Linked DNA regions of Homo sapiens: region 1 is linked to region 2. Evidence: fine-mapped expression QTL. A gene starts in region 2. The other region holds a variant in brackets. All regions are shown on one strand. Distances are from middle to middle.

Region 1 (9,145 bases), 45 kb before region 2:
CCGTGTCTCTACCCTCTCTTTTCTCCTCACTTTCCTGGGGGGCAAGAATCCCCCACCCCTTCTCTCCATGTCTCTACCCTCTCTTTTCTCAGGGCTTGCCTCCTTCACTATGGGCAAACTTCCACCCTCTATTCCTCCCTCTTCTCCCTTAGCCTGTGTTCTCAAAAACTTAAAACCTCTTCAACTCACACCTGACCTAAAACCTAAATGCCTTATTTTCTTCTGCAATACCGCTTGGCCCCAATACAAACTTGACAATTGCTCTAAATGGACAGAAAATGGCACTTTCAATTTCTCTATCTTAGAAGACCTAGCTAATTTTTGTTGAAAAATGGGCAAATGGTCTGAGGTGCCTTACATCTAGGCATTTTTCACACTTTGTTCCCTCCCTAGTCCGTGTTCCCAATGTGATTCCTCCCAAATCCTCCTTCTTTCCCTCCCACCTGTCGCCTCAGTCCCAACCCCAAGTGTAGCTGAGTCTTTCCAATCTTCGTTTTCTACAGACCCATCTGACCTCTCCCCTCCTCCCCAGGCTGCTCATCGCCAGGCCGAGCCAAGTCCCAATTCTTCCTCAGTCTCCTCTCCTCCACCCTATACTCCTTCTATCACCTCCCCTCCTCACACCCAGTCCAGCTTACAGTTTGGTTCTGTGACTAGCTGTTCCCCACCTGCCCAAAAATTTCCTTTTAGAGAGATGGCTGGAACTGAAGGCATAGTCAGGATACATGTGCCTTTTTCTCTATCAGACCTCTCTCAGATCAGTTGGAGTTTAGGCTCTTTCTCATCAGGCCCCACTAAATATATACAGGAATTCCAACATCTAACTCTGTCCTACAATTTAACCTGGAGTGACTTAAATGTCATCCTAACTTCTACCCTCTCCCCAGATGAATGGGAAAGAGGTTTTTCTCTGGCCCAATCTCACACTGACAACTGCCAGCTCCATGAGCCAGACCTCCAGGAAGGCATTAGAGCAGTTCCCCAAGAGGATCCCCAATGGAACTATTAGGCAGATTCCCCAGGTATAGCTAGGCGAGATTACATGATTTCCTGCCTAGTTGAAAGGCTTTAAAAGGCAGCTTACAAAGCTGTTAATTATGACAAGCTTAAAGAAACTACCCAAGGTAAAGACGAAAACCCAGCCCAGTTCATGGCTCATTTGGCAGCAACCCTGAGATGCTTTACAGCCCTAGACCCTGAAGTGTCAGAAGGCTGTCTCATTCTAAATATGAATTTTATCACCCAGTCATCTCCTGACATTAGAAAAAAGCTTCAAAAATTAGAATCCAGCCCTCAAACCCCACAACAGGAATTAATCAACCTCACCTTCAAGGTGTACAATAATAGAGAGGAGGCAGCCAGACAGCAACGCATTTCTGAGTTACAATTATTTGCCTCTGCTGTGAGAAAAAACCCAGCCACACCTCCATCACACAAGAACTTCAAAATGCCTAAGCTGCACATGCCTAAGCTGCAGCAGTCAAGCATTCCTACAGGACTTCCTCCATCAGGATCTTGCTTCAAGTGTCAGAAATCTGGCCACTGGGTCAAGGAATGCCTGCAGCCCAGGATTCCTCCCAAGCTGTGTCCCATCTGTGCAGGGACCCACTCGAAATCAGACTGCCTAGCTCACCCAGCAGCCACTCCTAGAGCCCCTAAAACTCTAGCCCAAGGCTTTCTGACTGACTCCTTCCCAGATCTGCTTGGCTTAGTGGCTGAAGACTGACGCTGTCCAATCATCTTGGAAGCCCCCTGGACCATCACGGATGCCAGGCTTTGGGTAACTCTCACAGTGGAGGGTAAGTCCATCCCCTGTTTAATTGCTATGGGGGCTACCCACTCCACATTACCTTCTTTGCAAAGGCCTGTTTCACTTGCCCCCATAACTGTTGTGGGTATCGATGGCCAAGCTTCAAAATCCCTTAAAACTCCCCCACTCTAGTGCCATCTTGGACAACATTCTTTTATGCAATCTTTTTTAGTTATCCCCACCTGCCCAGCTCCCTTATTAGGCCAAGATATTTTAACCAAATTATCTGATTCACTGACTATTCCTGGACTACAGCCACATCTCATTGTCACCCTTCTTCCCAACCCAAAGTCTCCTTTGCGTCTTCCTCTCATATCCCCCCACCTTAACCCACAAGTATGGGACAGCTCTACTCCCTCCCTGGCAACTGATCACATGCCCATTACTATCCCATTAAAACCTAATCACCGTTACCCCACTCAACACCAATATCCCATCCACAGCACACTTTAAAAGGATTAAAGCCTGTTATCACTTGCCTGCTACAGCATGGGCTTCTAAAACCTATAAACTCTCCTTTCAACTCCATTTTACCTGTCCAAAAACCGGACAAGTCTTATAGGTTAGTTCAGGATCTGCGCCTTATCAACCAAATTGTTTTGCCTGTCCACCCTGTAGTGCCCAACCCGTATACTCTTTTGTCCTCAATGCCTTCCTCCACAACTCACTATTCCATTCTTGATCTTAAAGATGCTTTTTTCACTATTCCCCTGCACCCCTCATCCCAGCCGCTCTTTGCTTTTACCTGGACTGATCCTGACACCCACCAGTCCCAGCAGCTTACCTGGGCTGTGCTGCCGCAAGGCTTCAGGGACAGCTCTCATTACCTCAGCCAAGCTCTTTCTCATGATTTACTTTCTTTCCACCCCTCTGCTTCTCACCTTATTCAATATATTGATGACCTTCTACTTTGTAGCCCCTCCTTTCAATCTTCCCAACAAGACGCCCTCCTGCTCCTTCAATATTTATTCTCCAAAGCATATCGGTTATCCCCCTCTGAAGCTCAAATTTCTTCTCCATCCATTACTTACCTTGGCATAATTCTTCATAAAAACACACTGCTCTCCCTGCCAATCATGTCCTACTGATCTCTCAAACCCCAGCACCTTCTACAAAACAACAACTCCTTTCCTTACTAGGCATGGTTGGATACTTTCGCCTTTGGATAGCTGGTTTTGCCATCCTAACAAAACCATTATATAAACTCACAAAAGGAAACCTAGCTGACCCCATAGATCCTAAATCCTTTCCCCACTCCTCTTTTCCATTCCTTGAACACAGCTTTAGAGACTGCTGCCACACTAGCTCTCCCTGACTCATCCCAACCCTTTTCACTACACACAGCCAAAGTGCAGGACTGTGGAGTTGGAATTCTTACACAAGGACCAGGACCATGCCCTATAGCCTTTTTGTCCAAACAACTTGACCTTACTGTTTTAGACTGGCCATCATGTCTCCGTGCAGCAGCTGCTGCCACCCTAATACTTTTAGAGGCCCTCAAAATCACAAACTGTGCTCAACTCACTCTCCACAGCTCTCATAACTTCCAAAATCTATTTTCTTCCTCACACCTGATGCATATACTTTCTGCTCTGTGGCTCCTTCAGCTATATTCGCTCCTTGTTGAATCTCCCACAATTAGCATTGTTCCTGGCCTGGACTTCAATCTGGCCTTCCACATTATTCTGGATGCCACACCTGACCCCCATGACTGTATCTGTCTGATCCACCTGACATTCACCCCATTTCCCCATATTTCCTTCTTTCCTGTTCCTCACCCTGATCACATTTGGTTTATTGATGGCAGCTCCACCAGGCCTAATTGCCACTCACCAGCAAAGGCAGGCTATGCTATAGTGTCTTCCACATCTATCATTGAGGCTACCGCTCTGCCCCCCTCCACTACCTCTCAGCAAGCCAAACTCATTGCCTTAACTCAGCCCCTTACTCTTGCAAAGGGACTACACATCAATATTTATACTGACTCTAAACACGCCTTCCATATCCTGCACCACCATGCTGTTATATGGGCAGAAAGAGGTTTCCTCACTACACAATGGTCCTCCATCATTAATGCCTCTTTAATAAAAACTCATCTCAAAGCCGTTTTACTCCCAAAGGAAGCTGGAGTCATTCACTGCAAGGGCCATCAAAAGGCATCAGATCCCATTGCTCTAGGCAATGCTTATGCTGGTAAGGTAGCTAGCTAAAGAAGCAGCTAGCGTTTCAACTTCTATCCCTTATGGCCAGTTTTTCTCCTTCTCATCAATCACTCCCACCTACTCCCCCACTGAAACTTCCACCTATCATTCTCTTCCCACAAAAGGCAAATGGTTCTTGGATCAAGGAAAATATCTCCTTCCAGCCTCACAGGCCCATTCTATTCTTTCATCATTTCATAACCTTTTCCATGTAGGTTACAAGCTGCTAGCCTGTCTCTTAGAACCTCTCACTTCCTTTCCATCATGGAAATCTATACTCAAGGAAATCACTTCTCAGTGTTCCATCTGCTATTCTACTACCCCTCAGGGATTGTTCAGGCCCCCTCCCATCCGTACACATCAAGCTCAGAGATTTGCCCCTGCCCAGGACTGGCAAATTGACTTTACTCACATGCCCCAAGTCAGGAAACTAAAATACCTCTTGGTCTTGGTAGACACCTTCACTGGATGGGTAGAGGTCTTTCCCACAGGGTCACCATGGTCATTTCTTCCCTTCTGTCAG[G/A]CATAATTCCTTGGTTTGGCCTTCCCACCTCTATACAGTCTGATAATGGACGGGCCTTTACTAGTCAAATCACCCAAGCAGTTTCTCAGACTCTTGGTATTCAGTGGAATCTTCATATCCCTTACTGTCCTCAATCTTCAGGAAAGGTAGAGTGGACTAATGGTCTTTTAAAGACACACCTCACCATGCTCAGCCTCCAACTTAAAAAGGGCTGGACAGTACTTTTACCTCTTGCCCTTCTCAGAATTAGAGCTTGTCCTCAAGGTGCTACAGGGTGCAGTCCATTTGAACTTTTATATGGATGCACTTTCTTGCTCGGTCCCAACCAGGTCCCAGACACCAGCCCTCTAGGAGACTATCTTCCAGTCCTCCAGCAGGCTAGACAGGAAATTCACCAGGCTGCTAATCTTCTCTTACCTACTCCAGATTCTCAGCCATATGAAGACACTCTAGCTGGATGATCAGTTCTTGTTAAGAATCTGACCCCTCAAACTCTACAACCTTGATGGAACGGACCCTACTTAGTCATCTATAGTACCCCAACTGCCTTCCACCTGCAGGATCCTCCCCACTGGGTTCGCCATTCCAGAATAAAGCTGTGTCCATTGGACAGCCAGCCTAATTTCTCTTCTTCCTCCTGGAAATCACAAGTACTCTCTCCTACTTCCCTTAAACTCACTCGCATTTCTGAAGAAGAGTAATAACACTTATGAGCCTAATACATCCCTTCATTCTATTAGGTCTGTTTGTCCTTACCCTACTTTTTGCAAAGGGCTTTATCCAGTCACCCCCACTACTTGGACTGAGCCCCAAAATCTAGTCATCCCTACTGTCTCTGTCTAGTCATACTCCTATTCACCATTCTCAACTATTCATAAATGCCTACTCTTGTTTACACTGCCAGTTTATGCTGTTTCTCCAAGCCATCACAGCTGATATCTCCTGGTGCTGTCCCCAACAACCACTCTTAACTCCCTCTTAGAGTAGATAGATGATCTTTGCTGGCAGGGCACCCTCCAATACTTTCACCTTGATAAAGTTCTATTCTTTACTTTTATACTCACTCTTATTCTCATTCTCACGCCACCCTCTACCTCTCCCCAGCTATCTCTACCACACTATCAACCTTACTCACTCTCTCCTAGCCGTTTCTAATCCCTCCTTAGTGAACAATTGCTGGCTTTGCCTTTCCCTTTCTTCCAGCATCTACACAGCTGTCCCTGCCTTACATACAGACTGGGCAATATCTCCTGTCTCCTTATACCTCTGAACTTCCTTTAACAGCCCTCACCTTTACCCTCCTGAAGAACTCATTTACTTTCTAGACAGGTCCAGCAAGACATCCCCAGACATTTCACATCAGCAAGCTGCAGCCCTCCTCTGCACTTACTTAAAAAACCTTTCTCCTTATATCAACTCTACTCCCCCCATATTTGGACCTCTCACAACACAAACTACTATTCCTGTGGCCGCTCCTTTATGTATCTCTCAGCAAAGGCCCACTGGAATTCCCCTGGGTAACCTTTCACCTTCTTGATGTTCCTTCCCTCTTCATCTCCAAAGCCCAACTACACACATCACTGAAACAATTGGAGCCTTCCAGCTCTGTACAGAAAAGCCCTCTATCAATACTGGCAAACTTAAAAACAATAGCAGTAATTATTCCTTAGGAAGACACTTACCCTGTATTTCACTCCATCCTTGGCTACCTTCCCCTTGCTCATCAGACTCTCCTCCCAGGCCCGCTTCTTGTTTACTTATATCCAGCCCCATAAATAACAGTGAAAGATTGCTCATAGACACTCAGCGTTTTCTCACACACCATGAAAATCGAACCTCACCCTCTATGCAGTTACCCCATCAGTCCCCGTTACAACCTCTGATGGCTGCCGCCCTAGCTGCATCCCTAAGAGTCTGGGTACAAGACGCCCCTTTCAGCACTCCTTCTCATCTTTTTACTTTGCATTTCCAGTTTTGCCTTGCACAGGTCTCTTCTTCCTTTGTGGATCCTCTACCTACATGTGTCTACCTGCTAATTGGACAGGCACATGCACACTAGTTTTCCATAATCCCCAAATTCAATTTGAAAATGGGACTGAAGAGCTCCCTGTTCCCCTCATGGACACCGACATGACAAAAAATGGTTATTCCACTAATTCCCTTGCTTGTCGGTTTGGACTTTCTGCCTCCACTATTGCTCTCTGTACTGGAATAGCAGGCATTTCAACCTCTGTCATGACCTTCCGTAGCCTCTCTAATGACTTCTCTGTTAGCAGCACAGACATATCACAAACTTTTCTCAGTCCTCCAGGCCCAAGTTGACTCTTTAGCTGCAGTTGTCCTCCAAAACTGCCGAGGCCTTGACTTACTCACTGCTGAAAAAGAAGGACGCTGTGTATTTTTTAATGGAGAGTGTTGTTTTTACCTACATAAATCTGGCCAGGTGTATGACAACATAAAAAAACTCAAGGATAGAGCCCAAAAACTCACCAACCAAGCAAGTAATTACGCTGAACCCCCTTGGGAACTCTCTAATTGGATGTCTTGGGTCCTCCCAATTCTCAGTCCTTTAATACCTATTTTTCTCCTTCTATTATTCGGACCTTGTATCTTCTGTTTAGTTTCTCAATTCATCCAAAACCATATCCAGGCCATCACAAATCATTCTATATGACAAATCCTCCTTCAAACAACCCCACAATATCACACCTTACAAAAAAATCCTCCTTCAACTTGACCACTCCCACTGTAGGTTCCCAGGCTGCTCCTAATCCCGCTTGAAGCAGCCCTGAGACACATCGTCCATTATCTCTCCATACCACCCCCCAAAAAAATTTTTTTCGCTGCCCTAACACTTCAATACTATTTTATGTTATTTTTCTTATTAATATAAGAAGTCAGGAATGCAGGCCTCTGAGCCCAAGCTAAGCCATCGTATCCCCTGTGACCTGCACATATATGTCCAGATGCCCCAAAGCAAGTGAAGAATCACAAAAGAAGTGAAAATGGCCGGTACCTGCCTTAACTGATGACATTAACTTGTGAAATTCCTTCTCCTGGCTCTTCCTGGCTCAAAAAGTCCCCTTCTGAGCACCTTGTGACCCCCACACCTGCCAGCCAGAGAACAACCCCTTTTGACTGTAATGTTCCACTACCTACCCAAATCTTAAAAAATGGCCCCACCCCTATCTCCCTTCACTGACTCTCTTTTCAGACTCAGCCTGCCTGCACCCAGGAGATTAAAAAGGTTTATTGCTCACACAAAGCCTGTTTGGTGGTCTGTACACATGGACATGAGTAAAAATATACATAGGCTGTTTTTAAATAAATCTCAAACCTATAAAGAGACAACTATTAATAAAGAATGTAAAAGATCAAGATCTTTGTGAGAAATACATCTGGAATGTGTCAGGCCTCTGAGCCCAAGCTAAGCCATCATATCCCCTGTGACCTGCACGTACACATCCAGATGGCCAGTTCCTGCCTTAACTGATGACATTCCACCATAAAACAAATGAAAATGGCCTGTTTCCTTCCTTAATTGATGGCATTATCTTGTGAAAGTCCTTCTCCTGGCTTACCCTGGCTCAAAAGCTCCCCTACTGAGCACCTTGTGACCCCCACTCCTGCCTGCCAGAGAACAACCCCCCTTTCCTTTACCTACCCAAATCCTATAGAACGGCCCCACCCCTATCTCCCTTCACTGACTCTCTTTTTGGACTCAGCCCACCTGCACCCAGGTGAAACAAACAGCTTTATTGCTCACACAAAGCCTGTTTAGGGGTCTCTTCACACTGAAGAGAGTGAAATTTGGTGCCGTGACTCAGATCGGGGGACCTCCCTTGGGAGATCAATCCCCTGTCCTCCTGCTCTTTGCTCCTTGAGAAATATCCACCTACGACCTCTGGTCCTCAGACCAACCAGCCCAAGGAACATCTTGCCAATTTTAAATCCAGTAAGCAGCCTCTTTTTACTCTCTTCTCCAACCTCTCTCACTATCCCTCAACCTCTTTCTCCTTTCAATCTTGGTGCCACACTTCAATCTCTCCCTTCTCTTAATTTCAATCCCTTTCATTTTCTGGTAGAGACAAAGGAGACACGTTTTATCCCTGGACCCAAAGCTCCGGTGCTGGTCACGGACTAGGGAAGGCAGCCTTCCCTTGGTGTTTAATCATTGTGGGACACCTCTCTGATTATTCACCCAGGTTTCAGAGGTGTCAGACCATGCAAGGATGCTTGCCTTTGTCCTTCACCCTTTGTGGCAAGTCCTGCTTTTCTGGAGGAGGGGCAAGAACCTCTCAACCCCTTCTCCTTCACCCTTAGCGGCAAGTACCGCTTTTCTGGGGGAGAGGCAGGAACCCCAACCTCTTATCTCTGTGCCCCGATCCCTTATTTCTGTGCCCCAACCTCTTATCTCTGCAACCTAATCCCTTATTTCTGTGTCCCAACCTCTTATCTCTGCACCCCAACCCCTTATTTCCATGCCCCAACCCCTTCTCTTCTTTTCTGGAGGGCAATAACCCCCCATCCCTTCTCTGTGTCTCTACTCTCTTTTCTCTGGGCTTGCCTCCTTCACTATGGACAAGCTTCCACCTTCCATTCCTCCTTCTT
Region 2 (9,145 bases):
AACAAATATCTCAATAGCTGGGAGGCTACAGAAAAGGCTTTCTGAGTAAAGACACGAGAGCTTTTCCAAAAGAATTAATTAAGGTCAGAAATGAAGTGACAGAATCTGAAACTAATTTTCAGAAATCTGAAATACATGAACATCTTTAAAGGAATAAAAAAAGAGAGAAAGGGAGAAAAAGTAGTTCCAAATCATTTGTCAAAGCAAATAGATTTATGTCATGTACTTAAGGTCTAAGTCTATGTGACAAACAGCTGCCCTTTGATAAACTGTTGAACTCAGAAGTCAATGAAAAAAATGTCACTAAGTAGTACAAGTTTGGAGAAGAATATAACATTATCTGCCCTATAAATTTTATTTCGTTTCTAGATTAATGACATTTTTAGCACAGATCAAAAATTATATATCTCCTAATAAGTAATGACAACAAGTTTATTTCATTTTCTAAAATAGAGCCATGGATAACCCACAGGTCATGGGTGAATGTGGCTCTTGATTTGATTGTACCAGACCTCCAGAAAATGTTCTAAAATTCAGTGCATGTTCTCTTCTGCTAGTAAAAGTCTAAAAGCCAATTTTGTGTGCATATGGGAGATCCAAAGATGAAAACAAACGTAGTCGTAGAATTATAGATTATTTCAGCCAAAAGGTCCAAATAAATTACCTAACCTCAACTTTTCTTTTTACAGTGAGGAATCTGAGGCCCAGAGAGATTAAGAAGCTTCACAAGTGACATGACTTGTGCCAAATCACAAGGTCATTTAGTTGCAGAACTGGGACAGGAATTCATGCCCAGTTCTCTTTTCAAAACCCTGTGGAAAAAAGAAGCACATTGAATTTAGCCTTTGATTCGTCATCAGCATTATCAGAGGTAAAGCAAAAGGGAGTATTAACAGATGTTCAGCAAAATGGAGGAGGTAAATTCAGAGCAGATGTTTTGACAATGAAGTAAAGAAGGAGAACTGAGGACACTGAGAGCCTTACATAATATATGAGAATTAATATTCTTATTAATATATTAGTGAGAATATATTGCTCTTATATTCTTAATCCTCACTGAATTATTTTAGGAATTAGCACTGAGCAAATTATTTAACCTTTCTTTGCCTCAGTTTTCTCAGGTTTATTACAAGGTTGTTTACTTAACAAAGTAATTATAAATATTAAATGAGAGAATATATATTAAGCACATGAAACAGTGGCTGATATCCTTTCTATATTTTTGATAGTGCGTTATTACTATTACTTTATCATGTTCACAATTCACACCTGTTAAAACTTCTGTGTTTCTCTATATCATGTATCCATTTAAAGTAATTTAAGTTTTCAGAGACTCTAATTTATGTATCTTCACAAATATTGTATTACTTTTTCAAAGCTATAGCATGTGGTTTAAACGTTTCTGGGAGTGGTATATTGGGATTTGCTGAAATTAATCAAGACTAAATCTGGAATACATTGGCTTCAGTGTGCACTATTTGCAAAGAAAAATTCTTACAATTAACTTCACTTCACTATTACCAACGTCTTTTCTGTATAAAATTGTCTTTATTTAAAATGAAGCAAATAAAATCTTGTAAATAGTATTTTCAGGAAAGCAAATTTCTAAATACTGCTACTCTGTGATAAGAAAAATACACTGAAATTATAGTTGTAGCAACTAAATTCCCAAATCAAAAATCTGTATTTAGAACACAGTATCTCAGAGTAATCCAAAAGCTGAAAATTAAAACAACTATAGAAACTGAGAGCATGAGATAGCTGAGGAGATGAGCAACAACTTTTTTTTTTTTTTTTTTTTTTTTTTTTTGGAGAAGGAGTCTGTTCTTTTGCCCTGGCTGGAGTGCAGTGGCACGATCTCAGCTCACTGCAACCTCTGCCTCTTGGGTTCAAGCACTTCTCCTGCCTTAGCCTCTCAAGTAGCTGAGACTATAGGCACATGCCACCATGCCTTGCAAATTTTTGTATTTTTCCAGCCTGGTCTCGAACTCCTGACCTCAAGTGATCCACCTGCCTCAGCCTCCCAAAGTGCTGAGATTACATGTGTGAGCCACCACACCAGCCAAGCAACAATTCTTTCAAATGGGATGCCAGCACAAAAGCACAGTATCCCAGTAAGAGGGATAGACACTATCCCAGACAGTCCATGAGGAGACTCCAACAAAACAATCATCATTCACAAGCACAAAGGCCTCTGATTATTTAAATCCTTTTTTTTCCATTTTCCTTTTAAAACTAGTAACAAATAAGCTTTTAAAATGAACAAATTAATGTTTTTTCTTGGTCTCGTTACAGATGAGGTGCATTTTTTTTAAGAGAAATGTTGGAAACAACCTACTGAAGAAAGGCTAAGTAAGTAATGGTACTTCTATAAGAGGCAATAAGATACAGTAATTAAAAATCATATTTTGAATCAGTTCCATGACATGGGAAAATGATCACAACATAGTGATAGTGGAAGAATATGTATGTGTATAGATGTATATTTTATGAGTATGTACATACACACACACACATGCACGCCCAGTATAATCTCAAGTAATTAAAACTGGCTAAAACAAACTAAAAGAAAATGTACAAATATTTACTTAATTTTACATTTATATAGATGTCAATTTCTTAATAATTTTTGTAACCTTTTAAAGGAATTAATTATAAATGAATGAAAATTACATTTACAATTCTCCATTTTATTACAATTTTGTACTTTTCATTACATTTTCACTTATTAAAATTTCTTTATCCTGAACTTCTAATATTAAAAAATGAATGCGTCCATATCTTATCCAGTATAAGTAAGGAGATGTAAGAGTCTCACCAGCTGAGGTTTCCTGTTGTTTTAAAGTTTGTCTTATCTGCTGCTGTGCTTTTCCTTTGGCTCCCAGTTGTACCATCTCAAGAACCAAAGTTATTCCAAGGGGTGAAAATATAATGTTGTCCTTATGAGATAAGGAAACCTCTTGATAAAGATCCACTGCAAATTCGGTATTTTTTTGAGCTGAGCATCTTGAGGCTTGACTTCCAAAAAACAGCAATAGAAGACTCCACAAGAAGATTGTGTCCATTTTGACTTCTCTGTATTGTTTAAATCAAAATATATTCATTTTCAAAATAGAGTTTTCCACAGAGAGCTCAACAGAAAACTTTCTACCTGTTGTAGCTTTCTATCTTAATAGAACTTACTACCACAAGTGAACTCTATCCAATTAGATTTCTAAGTATCATCTATTCAGAAAAATAGTTCATGTGTTAATGGTATTTCTTACATATCTTCAAGAACCAGTAGAAAATATACTTGTAGTTTTGTAGCAAAAATCAAAAAAGACACTACAATGTTGGAATGTTATCAATGGCAATGGTATCTCCAAATAGTTATACAATAGTTTTTTTCTATCTTTTCTCATGGTTAAGTGGGATAACTGTAACTCTGACATCAGGTAAACCTTCTGTGCTGTCTACTCTACAGTAATTTATAGATCAAGAGGAAGAAATGGAATAAAAACAGACTTACTCCAGTGTGGTTTTAGACCTATAATATTAGAAAATTAATGTATTCTAAAGCAACTGAGTAATCTGGCTAACTTTTTACAATTTTCCTCACGCTTTATTTCTTAGGACAAAATAACCCAAAGCCCTCTTCCTGCTTTTCCAAAAGAAGACAAATACAATGCAGAAAACCTGCAAAGTTTGAAACAAAATGGCAATCAAATATAAATGATACAATAAAGTACTATGCTCACTACCTGGGTGATGAGATCATTTATACCCCAAACCTTAGTGTCAGGCCATATACCCATGTAGCAAACCTGCACATGTACATTAATCTGTAATAAAACTTGAAATTATAAAAGAAAAAATATAAATAAAATGAAATATAATATCAAAGAATTGACAGAAATACTAACAAATGTAAGAGTAGCAGCAATTAAAAACCATAAACAATTCACAAGACTAATAATACCCTATTAAAGTGCTCTCCACTAAAATTGCAGGAAATTCAACCATTTGATTATATCTCAAGCAGAATTAGTTTTGCAATATTACCACATATTTGGTAGAATGTTGACTCCAAGGCCTCATAAATTTTAGTAACAATAATTTTACCTTATAAATAATACATGTTAGTAATCCTTAAAAACTTATCCATCAGTAAGTTACTAGGAAGTAACCCTTAATTAGGGGTAAAGATGAAAGCCTTTAGAATAGTCTGTTGTCAGCCTTAAGTAGAGACTTACATTTCTAGAGTGTTTTGCAGATCATTAAGGGTACCATAAATGGTAGGAGTCCCTAAGAACAACTATATTTATATATAAAGATTACTAATAGTCAAATATTGTTCCAAATTAAACTATGGAGTCATTATTTATCCTTCAATGTATTTTGTTAAACTGTATTTGTTTAGATATATATTTGCAAAAGACAAAAGCCTCAAAAAACAATCCAAAGCAATTGTTAGAAAATGTGTTGGTAAACTTTAGATATAGACCTATATGCTATTAATATCAAGCAAATGTTTCATTAGGGATTAATTTAGCATATGAGCTTATAAATGAGAGTGCAACAATAGTTAAAAACCAGTGAGTAAGAGAAGTTTTACATGCAAAATAAATGTCTGTGTATCATTATCTTCTAATATATTCAATTTCTCAGAAGACTTCTGACCAAAATATGTGTTTGTAGATACGTAGTCAAAATGTTATTAGTACCTTTAAGTTATCAACTGGAAATACATTAGATATAGCTTTATGTATTTGGTTTATATTGGAATAATGAACAGTATTATTAAAAATGTAATTTTTTTCTTTGTGGTAGAATCTCAGTATTAGAGTTTCCTTCTCATTATTATTAATAATCTTAATAATTAAATTTATATTATTTGAGCATCCACATCCATTTTTTCTAGAAAATTTCTAAGCACTTAATAAATTATAACCTCAGACAAATATTGGTTTTAAAAACTCACTTACCTCATCAGGTTTTGGATCATATCTTATCAGAAAGCACAAAGTAATGCTGAACTAAACAACCTGATGAATAGTCCTATAAGAACTGGATCTTCTGATTTGTGGTGAAATCATTTAAGGAGAATAAAAGCGATATGTTAATTAAATAAATTCAAATGATTTTTACACCAAAGTAAATTGAAATGCCATTCCATACTCTACTAAACATTCATAGGCAATGTTATTGCATACATACTTATTCAAAAGCTATTTATTTCTAAGGTACTTACCCCAAACTGACTTCTGATTATTCACTGGAATGTTACAACTAAAATACGCTTGCTGGAAAACTCTTGTACATAAACACCTGAGCGATCAAGGCCAACTCCATTTATCTTGACCATTGCTTGATTAATTCCTCTAGAACAAAAGCAGGTGTTCACTACATTTGTATTAAGAACTAACACAATCGGGTTAATGATCAACTGATGAAATGTGCAAGAATTGAGAAAAAAACAATTATAGAATTTTTTAAAAGTATTAAATTTATATTATTATTTTATCCATTATTTTGCTTCTTTTAAAAGTTGCACAGAATTTGAAAGGATGCGCTACTGGTTGTAAATTTGCTAGTAATTAGTTCTTTTTGTTTCTCACAGGACTCCTACATCAGATTACCAATGCACTTTGTCATAAATATTTCAGAATGCCTATGAGAAAAAGAATAAAGCTAAATCAAGTCCAGAATACAGAGACAAATCACTGCTGCATTGACAGAGTTCTCAACATTCATCAAATTATACAATAGTCAGAGGAGTTTCCTGTGGATATAAGGTCCATTTGAATCCTTAAGAAAAAGAGTGGATATTGAAGAAATATGTTCTTTATTCTGAGCAGAAAGGCCAGCAAAAAAGATAATGGATTTGCCAAAATATATCAGGACAATACTATTAGCCATAGGTAATTGGATGATAAAAATTGCTGTTACCTTTATGTGCTTTTGAAACTCTACATGATTTTCTTTGCAAAAAGGTCATTAATAAAAAATTGCATAATTTAATGGGTTTCATCTCATTTTTGTAGTTCAAATCAATCACCTCAATGGCAATCAGATATTAAGCACATTGTATTATTTATCTATAGCCTTTGAGAAGAGAAAAAAAATTTAGTTCACTTTTAATTAAATATCTGTTGATCCCCAAATTTAATACTATTTCTGATAAACTCATGTAAAAGAAATAAAGTGAATATAGATAGCTTTAAATGGAATTCATTTTTAAAAACTTGTCAGAGGACCCTGTTAACATCTTTCCATGTCCTAACATGGCTATAACTTAAAAATAGGCCTGAGAATAGATCATTATAGGCCATAATCTACTAATTAACTAAAATTTTTTGATTTCCCATATAGGCATCTCCAAATGTTTTCTAGATCTTGAGTTTTATTCTAATATTACCTACTCTATCATAAGCACACTCTAGTGTAGCTTTAACTTAACACAGAGATAATTTTCCAAAAAGAGTTGTGCAATACAAGAATACTATCATTCTACTTGCTTCACACTGCAATACATAAATATTAAGTCTGAATGTCAAGACTATCATTCAATCAATGCTTTTCTACCCATTTACTGACACCAGCAAACATATATCACCAGTACCCTTGGCTACCACATCATTATGTCTGTACACTGCTCAGATCACAATGTGATTTATCCAGAAATAGTCCATTACTTTTCCTACCAATGGCAGAGACCGTCACTCTGTCCTACTAAGACCATTTAATGAAATTGTTCTGTAAGGACCTTATATTAGAGCAGTTCAGGCAGAATGTTCATTTTCCTGTCTCTTGAGGAGTAAAAAGCAATAGCCATAAATTTATTCTCCCTGGTTTAACCTCTTTTAATAGACAATGACGACAATACAATTGTCCATAAAATATTACCACAAATTTTTAAAATATTTTCCCAAACCGCTTTTTTCTACAATTCTATTTTGCTCCTAGAAAATCGGGGTGGGGGGAGAATTATTCATTAATGAGAGCCAACGTGTCTTGGTAGAAGGTTGATCGCCATTACTGTCCGACTGTAAAGTATAAGCCTAGGAATATATATAAAAACCACAGCAAAGGGTTACAGTTATCATCTCATCAATTTTCTTATCCTTTTATAGTTTTTTCAAGTAAAAGTGCACTTAATTCCAAACTTTAAAAATGTATAAGCAAATGCCCTCATCAGTAAAGAACTTAAAAGTTAATTCTTCCATTTAAGCATGGACTCATTTCAGGCAATTTTTTTTGGTAAGATTGTTCCTAAATTTTGAGTGATAATAGGAAAATGTTCTGACAAAAGAAAATGTTAAATTATATTTAGTGTAAATATAAGTAATACAAACAAGGTAGCCTATTGAAAATTATGACATATCCTATTTTAATGTGACCAATTCCTTTTACCACAGAAAAATGGATCATAAGTAATTGAATCTGAATGTTAATTTCAGAAACAGTTTATAATGCCTTCAGTTCTGTTAAGAGTTGACAGGTGAGATCCTGCTACCTGCCTAGAAAATTAGATGCTGTGAGTTACAAAAGAAGAGTAAGACACAGAAAAAAAGACATTGTCTTTTTTCTTCTTTTTGTGTTTTTTCTCCAAATTATTAGAAACAGTTACCTTGAAAGTCTCATACCTTTAAAAGTTCTCTTCTCATTGAATATATTTATGAGACAGCTCTTCTTAATTCCTTTTACAGAAGAAGCCCTGATGTTAATTAAGGATGGAATTAGAGTTACAGCATAATACCATGCACATGTAGTAGGCTATAGAGAGAAGGTCTGTCTGTATGAACCAGACTATCTCAGGCTATCACATCAAACAAAGTTATCTTCAAGGGTAAACAGTAAAGTATATCTAGCAAAAGAATTCCCAAATTAGACTGGAAAAAATATGCCAGATTATGAATTTCCAACTTATGCCAGTGGGCTCATTTAGTATTGGCTTAATAAACCACTACATTTTATATAGCTTCACTTCAGAACGCTGAGGGTAGAAAAGGTGCATTCTATTTATATGTGAATACCCGGAACCTAAAATAATCTCTTATACATGCCTTCAATACTTACATGAGGGATGGACGGATCAGTGGGGAAAAGAGCCTTTGCAAATTATTTGGTACCCGCATTCTACTTTTATAACATCTTAACATTCCATTAAATTTCTGGGCATGTGGCTCAGATTTCACTCCATTGTACTATCACCAACCTATGATTCATAAATCATGTGCTCTGAGTTTGAAATGATGGATTACCCAGTCAAACCTCCTACCCAGTGCAAGAAGTCTTTGCAATATCCCCGTGAGACAGTTACCCAGTGTCTGCTTGAACATCTCAAATAATCTTTTTGTTCAAAAGCAACTTTTTATATTTTAAAAAAATTTACCTTGAAATACTTTCAAATTTACATAAAAGTTGCAGATATAGTTCAAAGAACTGCTATCTCCACCTCCTCCTCTTTCCCCAATTGTTAGCATCTACCGCATGTGTGTGTTTCATCTATGTATCTATCCTCCCAATAAGCAAACAGATGTAAATATAGATATGTATATGTGTTACCTGTGTGTGCATATATATACATTTTATATATACATATAATTAGTATTTTCTGAATCATTTTATAGCAAGCTAAAAACATAATTTCTATCATACTTAAACATTCTATTATTATATTTTTCTAAAACAAGGACACTTCTTGTACATCATCACACCACCCAACAGACAAACACACACGCACACACACACAGAGACAAATATACTTTTCTCCTACAATCTTTCCTGCATGTAATTTTCATTCCATGAGGAGGAAAGGCGATATGAATAGAAGTCATAATGCCTAACTCAGAATACACTTAAATGTAGTTAGAATAGGCAGCTGTCTTCTGAAAGTCCTTCCATCACCGCCTTCTCCACCAAACCAAAATATTTGCTCCACTGGTGCTGGAAAGTCTAGTGTTAGAATTCATTCCATTGGCTTTATACTAATAAGAAGCAAGTGTACAGAATGATGAATGGCAAATACCATGGTTTGGGAGTAAAACAGACCTGGGTTCCAATCTCAACTCTGCCATTGATAATTGAGCACTCTCCTAATAGATTCGCATCTCATATTTTAGCTCTAAGCTAATATATTCATATGATTATTGTGTGGTTT

Evidence for each region. PIP is the estimated chance that this variant, and not a neighbour inherited with it, causes the effect.
Region 1: its variant is fine-mapped to the expression of SERPINI2 in pancreas (GTEx, PIP above 0.99).

Annotation. Positions count from the first base shown.
Region 1 is chr3:167,423,346-167,432,490 of GRCh38, forward strand. No RefSeq gene overlaps it. Among named protein-coding and RNA genes, the nearest start is that of LINC01327, 35 kb to the left of the region's middle. The variant G/A (reference allele first, on the strand shown) is at 4,535.
Region 2 is chr3:167,468,770-167,477,914 of GRCh38, forward strand. It overlaps SERPINI2 (serpin family I member 2), which reads right to left and starts at 5,273. Exons shown (of 9, transcript NM_006217.6): 1 at 5,234-5,273; 2 at 2,819-3,075. The coding sequence starts at 3,065. It overlaps LOC105374197 (a long non-coding RNA gene), which reads left to right and starts at 802. Exons shown (of 3, transcript XR_924683.3): 1 at 802-871; 2 at 2,296-2,352; 3 at 5,603-5,691.